2 separate regions of the Homo sapiens genome follow, and region 2 is linked to region 1. The links come from fine-mapping of genetic effects on gene expression. Tissue or cell type: sigmoid colon. Region 1 holds a variant in brackets; the other region holds the start of a gene. All regions are shown on one strand. Distances are from middle to middle.

Evidence for each region. PIP is the estimated chance that this variant, and not a neighbour inherited with it, causes the effect.
Region 2: B3GAT1 starts here. The variant in region 1 is fine-mapped to the expression of B3GAT1 in sigmoid colon (GTEx, PIP above 0.99).

What each region holds. Positions count from the first base shown.
Region 1 is chr11:134,371,039-134,379,212 of GRCh38, reverse strand. It overlaps GLB1L2 (galactosidase beta 1 like 2), which reads right to left. Exons shown (of 19, transcript NM_001370461.1): 13 at 8,065-8,174; 14 at 7,721-7,792; 15 at 7,383-7,461; 16 at 5,405-5,492; 17 at 4,957-5,068; 18 at 4,495-4,611; 19 at 2,889-4,241. The coding sequence ends at 4,155. It overlaps B3GAT1 (beta-1,3-glucuronyltransferase 1), which reads left to right. Exons shown (of 6, transcript NM_054025.3): 6 at 1-705. LOC124902798 (a long non-coding RNA gene) reads right to left here and starts at 2,417. Exons shown (of 2, transcript XR_007062961.1): 1 at 1,959-2,417; 2 at 872-1,149. RefSeq lists an enhancer at 1,853-2,752. The variant T/G (reference allele first, on the strand shown) is at 4,785.
Region 2 is chr11:134,409,147-134,417,320 of GRCh38, reverse strand. B3GAT1 (beta-1,3-glucuronyltransferase 1) reads left to right here and starts at 5,079. Exons shown (of 6, transcript NM_054025.3): 1 at 5,079-5,514. RefSeq lists an enhancer at 5,931-6,490.

The DNA.
Region 1 (8,174 bases):
GACCTAACATTCAGAATATAGCATTGGTTGCCTATTTTGAGATGGATTTAATCTCCCACAGTATTCATGAGACCATCTGATGGAATCAGATCCCTGAGCCACCTTGCAGGACGTTTTCCCCAACCTCTTACACCCTGGATGTCACTTTGGAAACCAAGCCCTTGGAAGCAAGTGGGGTGGCATGGGAGAGAAGGGAGGAGGTGGGCACAGGTGGTGAGCTTATGTGTGGGCACTCTACTGCCTCACAGAAGCCAGCCAAGTGCCAAGGTCAGCTTGGCTGGTCTGAGGCCACCTTCTTAGCCAAAAACCTAGGGTTCATTTTCAGGACTTTGATAATGAACAACAAAATGGGGACTTCTTTGGGCAGATGCTAGGTCAGTTGTTTTCACCTAATATCCTCTTTTAGCTGCATGTATATTTATTTATAATTATAACCCTGGTGGACTGCAGCCTTCATCTTTATTGGGAATGAGTTTGTTATAAATCAGAAATGGGTCCATGATGACCACTGTTTTCCAAACCCAGTCTGTTCCCTGCTCCCTCGCTGGCAAGCCCCACCACACAGGAGTGAGGCCAGGGGCTAGGAGTTCTAAGAACAGAGGCTGGGGTGAGGGTGGCACCCAGGCAGCTGCATCTGGTCTGTTTTAATTTAACTGTATTTAATTTGCTTTCAAAATTAAAAGTCAAATACAGTTTTTAACAGTCCTAATCCTCTTCAGCCCTGCCTTATTTTGTTCTCATTTATTAATTTAGCTACCCAACAAGTATGTATCAGGTGCCTGTTATGAACAGGCATCATTCTAGGAGCCGACACACAGCAGTGAGAAAACAAGGCTCTCATTTTCAAAGAACTGACCCACTGACGAGAGGAGACAGGCAATAACGAATGCATATTATTTCAGATGCAATCTGTTGTATGGAGGATGAGGGTGAGTCGGGGAGACAGAGGTAGCAGTGGAGAGGGTCAGTGCTCTGTAGGGTGACCACAGAGGCCTCCGTGATAAGTGACCCTTGAGCGAAGCAGCAACACCCTGACATGCAGCTCCCCGGGCCCAAGAAGAACGAACTCTCCACCAGGCGGAACAAGCGTTGCTCAGCCTGCTTACAGATCAGCAGGAAGGCCATCGGGCTCAACTGACGGGGCGGGGGCTGCTGGGGGCAACAGCAGTGAGGGATGTGGTGGGCGTGGGAGAAGGGAGTCCCCAGGCACCGGGTGAAACCAGAAGGCAATAGGGGGTCCAGTACGGAGGACTAACATAATCTATCCATCTCTAAGAAGAACTGCCCTGCTCCTCCACGGAGGATAAATGGAGAGGGCAAGGGCAGGTGGAGACGTGGCTCCTGGAATCATCCAGGCCAAGATGCAGTGGGCTGAGTGGGGGCATGGGGTTGGGGCAGAGAGAAGCAGTCAAATTTTGGCCAAGTTTAGGAGGCAGAGCCAGGAGGATCTGCTGCTGGATTGGATGTGGGAGATAAAGAGAGGGGTCCAAAATAGCCCGAGACACAGAACAGCACTGCCATTTCCAGATACAGGGCTGCGTGCAGGAGGGGTAATGTGGGGAAATGGAGCTCTGTGTCAGGTGCCTGTTAGACACATGCAGAAGAAAATGCGCCCCCACACACCTGGAGCTCAGGTGCAGCCCAGCATCGGCGGGCGCGGGTGTCCAACCTGTTTACAAACCACAGGTGCACGGGTGAGACCCTATGCAGTGAGTGTGGACAGAGGAAAGAAACAGCCCAAGGAGTGGGCCAGAGACCCCCAGCATTCAGAGGCTGGATATGAAGAGGGATTCTCCAAAGAGACCTAGATGAGGCCATACCGTGTGGAAGATAATGGAAACATCTTTAGTCAACGCTGGAGAATAAGCTCTGCCAAGAGGTACTTTGATAGAGAAGCTGAGCAATTAACTGGCAGAAAATAAGGGTGAGAATAAGAAGCTGGTGTAGGAAGACCTCACCTTAGGAAACCACAGTGTGTCCTGCTCAGGTCTGCGTGGAAGTGTGATCCAAGGGGCTTCTCCACCTTACAGGAGGATTTGCAGGAAGGTTCCCTTCCATTCCATCACTTTCTGACGGAACCAGCTCATACACAGCTCTGCAGAAGCACACACTCAGGTAAAGCGGGGCAGAAGACCCTGCAGGTGGCTCAGGCCACACCCAAGTAGCCCGAGTCTCATCCACATCTTAGCCCCATGCTTGTCGTTCCGAGGCAGTTCCAGAAGAACTGGTGAGTTTGGGCAAAACCAGGGACTCTGCCCCATGTTGTTCCCAAGCCACTGTCCACAAGCTTTCCTTTAATAAGCTCCATTTAATAAGCCCTTGACCCGGCTCAGCTGCTGGGCTGCACACCACGAATGTCCCCTGCACTCCCCCTGGGCAGCCACACACGGGCAGCAAGCCTGCTGGCCTCAGTGAGCTCCACGGCTCACCATCCCCCAGCCCACCTTCACGGGGCTCCCAGAGCTCTCGCTGTGCCGGGGATGTGTGTGCTACTTGACTTTCTGACTCTTACTGGAGATAATTTGGTTTTGGCAGTAGATGCCAGATGTAGTTTGTGAAGCAAAACTCAACCCCGCAGTTAACTCATATGGAGCGCCCTTGACTGCCTGGCAGATTCTTACCCCCGCCCACCAGCATGAGAATGAATTTGCATTTGAACTGTCCTCTCCAGGGCACTTCCAATCCAGAGACATTTGAAGGGAAGTCGGGGTCAGGAGGGGAATATGAGGCCAGGATCATGGCCCACCCACCCCAGGGACGGTCCCCATCTGGACCCCCAGGCGGCAAGTGGGGCCCAATGGGAACCTGACCAAGAAAACCAAGCTCTCAGACAGCCTTCCCTTCTGGCAAGAGTGGCACACATGACCAGAGACTATCACCAGAGGGGGTGTGATTCAAGGTTATAGCTTTACTGCAACTCAGGACAGTGAGCCCAAGCCAGGTGTTGGGCTGGGCCCCAGAACAAGGCTCAAATGCGGACTTGGACACACTTCGAAGGAGGGCTGCTCTGCCCCTGCTGTTCGGGCGTGGGGGGTGGGGGGCGGGGGCCACTGAGCTGGGCCTTCTGTCCTCCTCCCTGGATGTGCAGACATGGGCCATGGCTTCTGCCAGGACTCACATGTGAGCTGGGCCTTCTGTCCTCCTCCCTGGATGTGCAGACATGGGCCATGGCTTCTGCCAGGACTCACATGTGAGCTGGGCCTTCTGTCCTCCTCCCTGGATGTGCAGACATGGGCCATGGCTTCTGCCAGGACTCACATGTGAGCTGGGCCTTCTGTCCTCCTCCCTGGATGTGCAGACATGGGCCATGGCTTCTGCCAGGACTCACATGTGAGCTGGGCCTTCTGTCCTCCTCCCTGGATGTGCAGACATGGGCCATGGCTTCTGCCAGGACTCACATGTGAGCTGGGCCTTCTGTCCTCCTCCCTGGATGTGCAGACATGGGCCATGGCTTCTGCCAGGACTCACATGTCCTCCTCACTGAACACCAGAGACACCTGCTAACTTGGGAAGACGCAGGGTGAGGATTTCTGTTTCTCCAGCCCAGCCTGTCACCCTGTGGGAAGCAGCGAGTGGGAAGGGAAAGGGGAAGTCACATGTTTCTCACGCCGAGTTCCTTCCAGAATCCCAAAGAAGGCTCAGAAGGTTGTGAAGGAAGAACAAAGTCAGCTCAGGTGAGACACCCCTTCCCCACCCTCTACACTGGTGACACACCCAGGATTTCGGGGATAAAATGGGGCCATGAGGGATGTGGCCAAGCCTCCCAGGAACCAGCAAAGAGCACGCCTGAGTCCAGCAGATGCTCGCAGGGCTGTGACGTCCAGTGCAAGGGCACGTTTCAGCACTTTTTCTGAGGGCCAAAGGCTGGGCGATCTGATTAGCTGCTCCCACCCTAGAGACAGCCCGACAGCCTCGGCACAAGAGCAGGGCTGTAGGAAAGCCATCATCAACAAAGCCAGGCCCAGAGCCATCCCACCTTTCCCTGCAGGCTTAGGGTTTTGAGCTGAGACAGGGGCAGACTGTAGCCCCCAGTCCCTGAGGTTGCTACTTAAGGAGATGCTTTTGCAGTGAGGGGTGGGGCAGCAGCCACCAGGCTTCAGGTCAAGAGGAGGCGGCAGTCTCCCACTGGCACCAGCAGGAGGGGGTGCCACCGCTCACTTAATGTACTGGTTCCTGCCCAGGTGGGGGGTTTCCGTGAACTGTAATGCAGGGCCCGCCATCGTCTCCTCAAAAACGATGACCTGTGGAGAGAGGGCCCGGCTGGGAGGGCAGCTGACGTCTGTCCTGGAGCCAGGGGAGGTGCTGAGAGGTGGCAGGGTCAGAAGGAAAGGGTTTGGGAACCAGGCTGGAAGGGACAGGGACCAACAACTCGTCTGCAGCGAGGAGGAGGGAGGAAGAACCCGCTGACACGCCCCTCCACCCTGACCGAAGGCTCCCTGGGACGGCAGGTGGGCAGGGCGTCATGGGGAACAGGAAGGGGCTGGAAGCTCCCACCTGGTTGATTCCGCTGCTCAACCAGGGACCTGGGAGGTAAAGCGTCTTCTGGGGTCCAATGTTCCAGTAACGTCCAAGGTTCTGGCCATTGATGAATACAACCCCCTTCTCCCAGCCCTTGAAACAGAGGGGAAGGGTGTTCATCTACCACGAGAGCCACAGCAAAAGTGGAGGGAGACATGCATGCGTGCTTCTCTCAGGTCCAGGAGACCAAAGCGAGCTGTGTCTGGACAGCCATGAGGGTGGGCAGGTGGGATGCTCTATTTCCTGTCCCCCTAGTGCATGAGGTG[T/G]TTCTTCTGCTGGGAACCCACTCCTCTGGCCCAGGGAGGCCCCAGCGGCCCTCTCAGACCCTCTGGGCACAGAAGCCACCAACGACTCTCGCCAAGCTCGTGGCTTTGGCTCAGAGCCCTCCAAGGCGGGAGGCAGGTGGGAGAAACTGGCAGGGAAAAGGGCGTTACCAACCTCCAGCTTCAGAAAGGTGTCACAAGGGGTGGAGCTGATGGACAAGCTACCCAAGAAGAAAGCAGGTAATGTGGGTGTTTCTGGGAGGGAACTCCATTTGTCCAGGCCGAACCTAAGGACAGAACACAGAGAAGGAGAGGGAGGAGGCCCTTCTCAATCCACCAGCACAATAAAGCAAAATAAAAGGCCCTGACACCGTTTCCCCATCCAAGGCCCCCCGCCTCTTAACCAGGACACAGAATGGCAGCACGGTAGGATGCTGGGAATTCCTAGTCTGCAAATGCGGCTTCTAGTGCGGGTGCCACCCCTCACCTCGGCCAGCCGATCTGGCCCCTGGAGGCGTTCACACCTGGGTGCGGGCCAGGCCACGGTGCACCAGGGACCCCTGGGCCCCACCACACAGCACTATACCTGTGAGTGCAAGGGCTGGTGCTGGGCAGGGACCCACCTCTGAAAGAAGCTCTTCTTCATATCCAGGCTATAGATTCTGAAGTTTTTCAGGGGTGAATCATTCAGATAGAGATTTCCAATTAAGCCTGTGGGAGGGAGGCAGGACACGTGGGTAGCCCAAAGGCAGGGGCCGAGTCAGCTGGGCCGGGGCCACGAGGGGAAGCCCTGGGAAGCTGGGGTGAGGGGTGCTGAAGTGTACGCTCCCTGAGAAGCTGGGGTGAGGGGTACTGAAGTGTACGCTCCCTGGGAAGCCGTTCGCTTGCAAGCAAAGCTCCCTAGCAATTCTGTGGGGGACGGGAAGGAGGAAGACCCTAAGATTTGCCATGGGAAGGATATAGAGCTGAGGTGTTACAGGGCGAGAACAACCTCTGGCCTCTCTCTGAAGGAAGTTCCAGATGACCGAGAGGGTTCTGGCCTAGCTGCAGGGCCAGTTTCAGTGGGGCCCAAGCTACACAGACCTAATAACTCAGCCAGAATCATCTCTGCCACCTAGGATTAAAGCTGTGCATTAGGAGTGTTTGGACTGTGAGCAGATGGCACCCTCCCTCGGGCATCCAACAGGGAAGAGATGTGTCCTCTTGAGGAGCCACTCATCAGTGTCCCGGGGCCGGGCCAGCCCTGCCAGTCTCAGATTACAGAGCTGCTGAGTGGCTAGCTTGGGAATTTGGAGGCCGAGGACTGTGGAGAGGCTTTGCAGGGCCTACAGACTCCGAAATGGCAGGTGCGGGTCTATGTGGGCACGCGCATTTCTCAAGGGAGGTCTGTGACTTATAAACATTGAACTGTGATCCAGAGGACAGGACTCCACAGTGTGGGCCCAGGGGACCCTCAACAAGGGCTCAGGGAAGCAAAGTTAGGAACAATGGTCAGGCTGGTGCTCCTTCCAACTCCCAGGAGAACAACAGAAGTGAGGACAGGCCCAGAGAGGGAGCTGTCTAGGGTAAAGGAGTGTGGGCCTGGGTGGTGCTAGATGCCGCTCTGAGGCCCATCTAGAAGGGCCCTGATCCCCAGGATCCAGGCCCCAGTGTCTGGGCCACGTGGCTTTCCTGGCAGGCCACCAGACGGCTCTCGGAGGAAATGTGGACCAATAAGAGCTCTTCAAGTTTCCTCCGTCACAAACGCAGACACCGTGAGAGAGCTGGGAGGTCACCGGTGCTGCTCACCACAGTCGCATTCATTTTGTTCTGAGTTCTTTTTTTATAACTTACCTGAAACCACCCACATTTAGCTAGATTTTTTTTAAAAAGGAAGGGCTAAATTTGGGCACGGTGGCGGGCGCCTGTAGTCCCAGCTACTCGGGAGGCTGAGGCAGGAGAATGGCATGAACCCGGGAGGTGGAGCATGCAGTGAGCCGAGATTGCACCACTGCAGTCTGGCCTGGGTGAAAGAGCGAGACTCCGTCTCAAAAAAAAAAAGGAAGGGCTAAATTAAAGCATAAAAGATTTAGTAGGCCAGGAAACATAAAGCAAATTGGCGGCCTATTCCCAGAGGGGTACGCTACCAACAGGTGTTTTGTTTGCTGTATGTCCCGCATCCTCCTCCCCCAACATCTGAGATAAGCTTTCCCAAGATGGATCAAGAAGAGAACTTCAGTGTGGAGGCCCAAGAAGGCAGGGGTCTTGTGCCTTTCCTTGGATTCCTGGAAATCACATTCATTGCTCCTCACTGCCGCCCCCCCAAGCAGACATCCTTGCAGAAACCGACTGCAGCCCAGGGGAGACAAGAGGCCAGCTCAGTGTTCACAGTGTTTATCACGAGCACGCAGACGATGCACGCGTGCAGTGCTAACAGGACAGGGGCCACAGCCCAGCGGAGTTTCTCTGGCCCACTCAGAACTGGCCTCATGTATGGGACAACCCAGCCTCCACCTCCCTGCAAGAGGCCTCCATGGCCTGGTGGCCTGCTAGCATAGAGAAGCAATAGCCACCTGTGTGTCCAGCATGGCCACTCTTCTTTTGACACATTCTGGGACCCACCTTTGCGCTGGTCATCAATATTCTCCCCATAGTTGACTCGCCCACGATTCTCCACCAAGATCCTCAGCACGGTGTAACCCTGCCGGGAACACGGGGCTAACGATGACTGTCAGAAGGCCACAGCTGCCCCTCAGAATTTGCTTGTGGACCCCAGTTCTTCCCTACGCTCTGGGGATGGGAGTGTACATCCCAGCTGGGCAGAAAGCCACACTCGCCCTCTCCACCTACAGCTTGTGGGTAAGGAGCCACGGGTCTCCCAGGTTTTCCTCAGTGACTGCCCCCAGACTTCCTCGAAGCAGCGGGGGCTAGCCATCACCCAGCTCCCAAAAACAACGAACCTGGATCAGGGGGACAGCAATCTTCGTTGTCTTGTAGTCCAAGAATCCTATGGATACTGTGTTCACAAACACCTGCCAAAGGGAACAGGCAGGAACATCCATGACCAACAGGAGGAGGGTAAGCGGGACCTCCTCCAGGCCAAGAAGGGCAGCACGCGTGCCTGTAGGCAGACGAGGGGCCAGTGGGCAGAGCAGACATGAATGCCCCCTGAAGGCTCACAGAGCTGACTCAGAAGGGCCATTGTCACACACTGGTAAGAGCTGATTCTGAGGGGAGGGCATGAGACGCCTATTGCAGAGCTGCTCACCAGAAGGTCACAGGAATTTAGAAGAGAAGCTCCTACCTGCCCCCGATCATGCACGTGGCCACTGAGGATGCCAGACGAGGTGATGCTGGTCTCATAGAGAATGTACCCGAAGGACTGTCCATTTCCCCCATTGACTGGCAGGTTCT
Region 2 (8,174 bases), 38 kb before region 1:
CACCTATCAAAATTCCTGGCCATCGGAGCTGCTCAGAATTTTGATGAATGAATAAATGGAATCAGCACATCCATGTGGCAGGACTCCTAGCACCTTTTTTCTTTCTTCCAAATCCCAAAAGGAAAGGGTAAGGAGTCCTTTCTGCAGATGCTCTACTAATACCCAAAGGTCTAGGATGTCTGCCCATCACCCAAGCCACGGAGGGGAGTTTGGGCAGGAAATTAGACGACTCCATCCATCATATTTATTGAACAGCCACTCTCTGGAAGACGCTAGTGCAGGAGGTCACTCACGCACATGAATCCTCAAACTCCAAGCAGAGAGTGTCCTTTCCGCTCCCCATGGCTCTCTCCTCTCTCTCCACTCTCCAGCCTCACCTGCTGCACGTGTTCCTCAAGCACACCAAGCCTCCCGCAAACCCCTCAGGTCGCCTATCGCTGTCCTCCTTGCTGGGCCAATATTCCCCCGGGTTTTGGCTCAAACATGGCCTCTTCAAAGAGCCTCTCCCTGATCCTACCCTCCCAGGACTCTCTCCAGCTCTTGACCCTATTTCTTCCCTTCCTGTATCTCCTCCACCTCTGTTTGTTCTGTGCATTTGCCCATCTATGGACCACTAGCATATAATCCCTGAGTTGTGCTCTGACGATGAGCCTGAGTCCTGGAACTAGGCTGCCTGCCTCAAATGCTGGCTATGTCACTTACTAGGCATGTGACCTTAATTAAATTACCTAAATACTACGCCCCAGATTCCTGACCTATAAATGGAAACTATAATCGAAACTTGTCACAAACAGTACCTTGTAAATAACACCTTACATATGAAATTAGCTAACGTGCATGAAGACTTGGAACCTAACCTGGTGCATACATATAAATGGCCTAATTGAAGTTAACACTCCTAATTGCTGTTGTTTACTGCATGTCTCTGGTGCCCAGCACAGTGCCTGGCATATGACTGGAGCTCAGTAAATATTAGCTGAACACAGGAAAGCATGCACAGATGGGTAAGAGCCTCCAGATGTGTCCGGATAAAGTGCTATGGGACTGAGGGGAAGAGCAGTTCACTGCCAGAGGTGCCTGAGGGTCGGGAGGGCTATAGGAGACAGCACAAGCCACAGAGCTCAGGTTGGGAAAGGCTTCAGTGAGACTTTGGAGGTGTGGGCTCTGCAGAGTAGTTAGGGGATAGTGGGGAGGTCAAAAGGCAATCTGGGTTATTTTCACTTCTGCAAGAGGACAAAGAACGGTCCCAGGTTAGCCTCAGAGATGCTCCCCTAAGTCTGAGGGCTCTGCTCCTATCACCTCTCATCCCTCCCTCAGCCACAGAGGAAAGAAGGCAAAACAAAATGACATGACTGAAGTGTTCTAAAGCCATGTAACTGCACCCTTTCCCTGGAGGCAGAGACTGGAGAGAAGCAGGAGTCAGCCTTTTTGCACCAGCTCAGGAAAGATGCCGGCCTGGCTTCTGAGAAGAGAGGAGGGCAGAGGGAAACCTGTTGACCACATGACCATTTTCAATTTTTTATGGACAAACAAGGGTGTTCAAGATCCAAAGCTCAGACCAGAAACCTAATGAAAGGGAAGAGTTAAAAGGTCTCCTCCTCTTTCTGTATCTGGGCCATGAACTCCACCACCCAAAACAGCACATCCACACACATCCGTCCAGGAGCCACTGTGGGAACAGTTCAGACACGCCTGATAGCATGGCTGGGTCCCTGGGGAGCTCACCCTGCCTGCCGAGGCAGAGGGCAGCTCTTCCTCCTCTCACTCCCCCTGCTCTCTGGCAGCATCTGGGTGTGCCCATGCATGTGCATGTGCTGTCACCCTTGCCAGGGCAATGACGGGAGAGGACGGGCACCTTGTGGGGTGGGATTCCTCACTGAAGAATCCCACTGGGACCTTTCCACTCACATCAGCAAAATCACTGCTATAGATTCCTGGTGAAGGCAAGGGGAGATTGGATGGCCCCCAACAATCAGACTGGCTAAGACGGGTGGGGTGAGGGCCTGGGCCCCACAGGCCAGGGCGGCAAGCAGCGCAGCTGCGTTGCCTCTCTTGGGTGGTAGCTAAGAAGGACGGCACGGCTGAAAAGGCAGTATCATTAGGAGTCTGGAGCAGACCAAAACTCCTGCTGAAAGAGAGGCCAGGGCAGACAGAACCCACGAGGGGAACAATTAACTGATAAGAGTAAACTAATTGTTATTCATATTAAATTAGGGCACAGGTGATTTGGAGAAAACCTACAGACCATCCCAGATGTTTTGCAGGTTTTGCATTGCAGATGACGGTTTTACAGGACTCTTCTGGGATTCAGATTATGGGAAGTGGGCCAGGATCAGAGCGGGGGCAGGGCTCCCGTCCTGCTTAACTACACAATAAACACATAACGGTTTGTCCCAGAGGACAAACCCGGGCTTTGCATACTAAACATGCTGGTGCTAGGCTTTGGGGGCCTCTGAGAAGAGGGGCTCACTACTGGCAGGGAAGGCAGGGGGAGGGGAAGATCAATCATTCAGGGAGACCTTAGAGGTGCTCCAGATGTTTGGAGCAAGGGTCAAGCTGTGAGGATGCACCAAGTCCAGACATGGGAGGGAAGGATTTCCACAGTCCTGCAGAGGCCAAGCAGGAAGACAGGGGTGGGAGTGTGGCTGACCCGGGGGATGGTGTGTGTACACGTGTGTCTGTGTGGGTGCAGGTGCTTCAGGTACATCCGTGTGCAAGCGTTTACATGTGCACATGATGTATTTCAGAGTGTGTGTGTGTGTTCATGTGGGTGAATCTGCATGTGTAGCTGCCTCTATGAGCATGTTTTGTGCCTGCGTAGATGTCAGTACATTTGTGTGTGTCCATACACTTGGGATGTTGCCAAAACTTCCCACCAAAACGAATGGCAGGCTGTTGTCTCTTCACTGAGCCTTATCATGCTAATTTTAATCTCCTATTATTGTTTTAAATTGGCTCTAAAAATTAATACTAAAAATTCTGTAAACAGAGCCTGGAACTAAGATGCAAGACAGGTCCCTTGAAAGCGGCTTTATTATCACAATTGTTCCTGCCAGAATGCTGAGGTAAAGCCGAGAACCCCTGCAGACAGCATCTCCGAGCCACAGCCCAGCAGGACAAGTCGGACCACAGCCCACTTAGTCCAACCCTCTGTTTCATTACTGAAACCAGCCCTGAGGGGAAGTCTTTTGCTAGTGCCTTCAGAATCGGCCTGAAACCCAGGCCTCCTCGTCGCCATGTCCCTGAGCTCTCTTGAGATCACCCCTCATGGGTGTGTTTCCCTGTTGGTAAAATGAGGGTCTGGAACGAGACAGTCTTCACGGTCATTTCTGTCCTCCCATTTGGTGATTGTGTGACTGCGGCTGGCTGGCTTAGCAGAGGAGGGAGGCAATGTGCCCTCCTGGACGGCCTGGCCCCTCCTTGGTGCTCTCTGGTACCCCCGCCCATCCTGCTTCTGCACCTGCCCTTCCCCTCCCTTCAGCTGGTGTGGAGTCTAAGGAGAAGCAGAGTATGGAGACTAGGAAAATACCAGAGAACACCGACTTAGGAAAGGTCTCTTAGCAGAGTCTAAAAGAGAGGGTTGTAGTAGGGGCAGAAGAAGGCGGAGCAAGGCTGGCTGGGATTCCACTCATTAAGAGAAGGGGGAAATGCTCCTGTACCGCAGCAGGAGGTACTGAGGTTAGATTCAGAGGAAGTTTCTTGCCGGCAAAGGGGGCTGTTAAGCACAACAATGAAAGAGCGCACGACAAGGAGGAGCAGTTATCCCTAGAGATAGTCACTAAGGACACTTTCACATGTCTGTGGCATGATACGGACGGTGAGGTGCCTTCCTCCCCTCAAAATCTTGACCAAAGGGGCTGATTCTGGAGTCTCTGCCCCCTCCCCACCTGCACATCCTCAGTGGGAAGAGCAGGGCCCGGCTTGGTCCTAACAGGGCAGGAAAGCTGATGGAAAAGAGGCCCGTGGTCCTCAGCCCCAGCCCATAGCACGGGGGCACAGCTCTGGTTAAGCAGTGCCTAGCAGTGGGGCTGGAACTGGTTTCCCGGGAAGGAGGGAGACCCTAGAGAAAGTACCGACAGTCCCTGGTCCCGCCGCGAACCCCGCCATGGGAGGTGGCCTTCTCCTGGGGCTGTGAAGAGGACACAGCGGGTGTGGCCCGAATACAGGTGTCCAAGAGCACCGGGAGATGCCAACCTCTAAAACGAGTGCAAGGATGGCTTCAAAGTCTCCGACAAGCTGAAGGAGTATCTGGAATATACAGCTCCACAGAGGCACCCTACCAGTGCACCCACATACGTCCAAGTGCGCGCCCACTCACTGGCCTCCGTCCCCCGCCGACCAACACACCGCGGCAGAGGCCCGGGAAACTCCTGGAGATCCCGCTGCCCCCGGCCTCCCCGCGCCCGTCCGCCCACGCAGGCCTCCCGGGCCTCTCTCCGGAACGCCGGGTGCACCGGCCCGGAAGGGGAGGCTGGGGTGAGGCTGACGCGCGGCGGCTCGAGGTGCCCTTCCACGGGGCAGCAGACCCCGTACCCCGGCACGGCACCGTCCGCCCCCACCGGCCACCTCCCATCCGGGGTGCCTGGAGCCAAGGAAGGAGCCGCATCCCCCACCGGCTTCCCAGCTCGGCCTCTCGGTCCCAGAGCGCCGCCCCCCGCCCTCCTGCAGCAGCCCGGCCGGAAACAATCACCCTTTGAGAGAGGCTGCCAAGCTGGGCGCCAGGAGCAGCCAGGATGGAGGCGGGGTGGAATGGGGGTGCAGGCGGGGGCCGAGCTTTAACTCTCGAGAGCCGAGATCTGGGGGTGCGCTCGGCCCCTGCCCGCCACCCCTGCTCCGCCGCCTGAAGCGGGAGCCGCCTCCGCGGGGGACGGTGCCGGGGGAGGGTGGGGGGCGGTGGGGAGGTGATACCAATCCCGGGGGGGGGTCCCCTCGCCGGCCTCCCTCCTCGCGCCCCCGCCTAGGCTGGCGAGGTTGGTACCGACCATTAGCAGCTCGGGTCCCGCCGGCGCTGGCGCGGGCTCGGGGCGGGGGCGGGGCGGGGGCGGAGAGCGGGTGGGGGCGGGGCGGGAGGCGCCGGCAGAGCCGCGGCGGCACCGGCGCATCCGCCGCCACCTCGGGGACTCTGCGCCGGCCCGGTCGGCTCGGCTCCGGCCGCGCGCCCCCCTCGCCCCTCTCGCCCCCGCGCCCGCTCCCCGCTCCCCCTCCCCGCTCCCCCTCCCCGCCCCCCGCCCCCCGCCTCCCTGCCCGCGCCCTCCCTCCCGCGCGCTCCCAGCCTTCGGCCGCCGCCTCGCTGAGCCCAGAACGAGCCGGGCCGGGGCGGCGGGGCCGGGCGGGGCGGGCGGGCGCGCGGACCCCGCGGCTATGAAGTGGCCCCCGGGGGCCCGGAGCCCGACAGTCCCCGGGGAGGGAGCCGCACGCGGCCCAGGGCAGCGGTCTAGGGGCGCCGGGGCCGGGGCGTAGGGGCCGTTGCCCGCGATGGACCGCACCGGAGACGCTCCGGACTCGTCGCCGCAGGTCAGTGCTCCCCGCGCCCCCGCGGGCGCCCCGCCGCGCACAGAGCCCCTTTCTGCGTCCCCATCGGTGCCCACGCCATGTCCTCCCGGGCGCGCGCTGGGGTGTGTGTGTGTGTGTGTGTGTGTGTGTGTGTGTGCGCTGCGCGCGCTGGGGGCAGCTGGAAAGGGGGCCGAGAACCGAGCTCGGGCTGGGAGGCGCTGCTGCCGAGGGGCTGCGAAACAAAACCCGGCACAGCCTGCCCTCGTCGACCGGGATTAGGGGAAGAGCTGGTTCTCAGCAGCTTCTAACAATCGGCCCGGGCTCTCAGTCGTCAGTTCCCGGCCCCCTCAGCAGGTGGTTTCTGGTGGCCGGATGAGGAGTCAGGGGTCAGTCGTCCCCCACCTCCCCACCCCTGCTGCCCAACAGCGCTCTCTGGATCGCTCTCTGGCTCCTGGGCACTGCCAAGTTAACTCTCTTGAGGGGGCCCGAGCTCTGCGGGGCGCGCTGAGGGACCCAGGGGTAGCAAGGGTGGCAAAGGGCCCTTGGGACCTTCGGTGTAGCAAGGAGGAAGGAGGCGCGACCAGTTCACCACCCTCCCATCTGCACCTGGGCTCAGGTCTGAGGTCCCAATCCCTCCAAAGTCAGAGCACACAACTTCCAGAAAAAGGAGGCTGAGAGTTGAGGCAGGAAATAGAGAAGGAAGCCACCAGGTCCGACAGTGCCAGGGTAAGGAGGTGACAGCCCCGTACCAAGCAGCTAAGGTCAAGAACCACCCCCACATGCACACACATGGGAGCCTTGGCCAACTTCCCTGTCCCCTTCCTCCCCCAGCCAGGCCTAGCTGCATGGATTCTTGTAGAAGCTGGAGCTGAAGGACTCTGGACATACAGGAAGGGGACCTTTACTGACAGTTGCTAGCCCAGTGCATGGGCACCTGCATAGGTGGGGTGCCCAATGGGGCCTAGAGCTTGGGCTGTGTAGCACGCACTGTTGAAAATGTTGGGGTACGGATGTCGTAGGGCCTAGCACTGTGCAATGCCTGGATGTGTTTGTGTGGAAATGGGAGGCACATCACTCCCTAAGTTACTAGGGCTGTGGGGCATGTGGCTGCACAGGACTGTTGTTCTAGGGTTTTCTAAGATTTGTCTTCTGTGCTTATGTCGCCCTACCTCTGCTGGTAGCCACTGCAGAGACTGAGACATTTCCTCCCAGAGTCTGCTCAGTTGGTGACCATTAATGGCCTTACTGGACCAAACATCAAGCCTTCCCTTTCTTCCCATGGGGTGAAGACCCTTTCCCAGGGTCTTCAGACAGACTTCTCACTCTGCCCAGTCCATGCCCAGCACTGCCAAAGGTTCCAGAGCTTAGAGACATTTTCCCTCTTCCCCTTTTCATGGAAGCAGAAATACTTGCTAAGGTTAATGGGACTGGGAGAGTTAATGCATCTGTGCCCCATTCAGCACTGGAGCCAGGAGCTCGCTGTTCCTGTTTCTGTGCCTGACCCCAGGATGCTTGGGGATCACTCCAGGTCCAGGTGAGCTGGAAGCTTGCAGGCGCTGTGTTGAATATGTGTGTGTAGGTTTCTGGTTGGGCAGTTACTCACTGTTCCACCAGAAGCAGGGGGCAGGTAAATCACTGAGGAGATAAGCTCCAGCAACAGGATTGGAGCCCGTGGCGGAGACCAAGGAGCTTCACAGGAGGATGCCCTGGGGCAAGCCCAGTTCCTCAGCTTCGGCTTCTGGGGAGACCTGAAGGTTCTCTTAGTGGTTTCTCGGGGATAAGGGGACCAAGTCAGATATACTTTTCCTAGGTGTGGAGCACAGGGTGATGAGGCCGGCCAGGAGCTGGGAGTGTGAGATGGGGAAGAGGATGCACCAACCGAAAGGCTGAGCGGACAGGAGCATGGTGCTCCATTGTTTCTGGAAGAGAGGGATGAGTGTTCCTCTCTGATGAGAATGGAGAGGAGGAGAGGAACGGGCTCAGGAGGAGGAGGAATCCGAGAGAGAGCCTGACTGAGGCAGAGAAAGAGGCAGTGAGACAAGAGACAAAGGCACGGAGGCGCACTGGCGGACAGCAGAGGGAGGCACACAGGCAGAAGTCAGGGCCTCCCTGACTGAGTGGTGAGTTGGGGCAGGCTGGGGGCCTCCCCCTGTTCCCCTACATCGACCTCAGCAATTGTCCACCCCTGCAGGAGGCCCCTCACTAGAGCAGTTGGACATTCTACTGAGGAAGGTGCTTTCCTGTGGCTCTCAGGAATGTGAGGGTCTTTTAGACAGAAGCCCAAAGGCAGAGGGAGGCCAGGCTATGAGGTCAAGCACATCAAGAGCTTGCAGGGACTTTCAGGGACACCCTTCACCCCTGAGCATCTCACAATGCTGAGGGCTCCTCTCCATCTTCTGGCCCTGCCCCAGCCCTCCTGGTCCTGGAATGCAGGGCAGTGGGGAAGGATGTGGGGTCTGGGGAAACCTGGCACTCAGGAGAAGAAGAGAAGTCATGCACCCCCTCCCCAGGCCCCCAGGCAAAAAGACCTTTGGGGACCCTACTGAAGACTAGCCAGGGGACATGGAAGAAGTGCAGTGGGGACAGGCCCTTGGCCAGGCTGTCTGAGGTCCAGTCTCATCTCCATCTGTGGCTAGCCGAGTAGACTTTGAAAAAAACAGAGCTCTCTAAGCCCCGGCTTC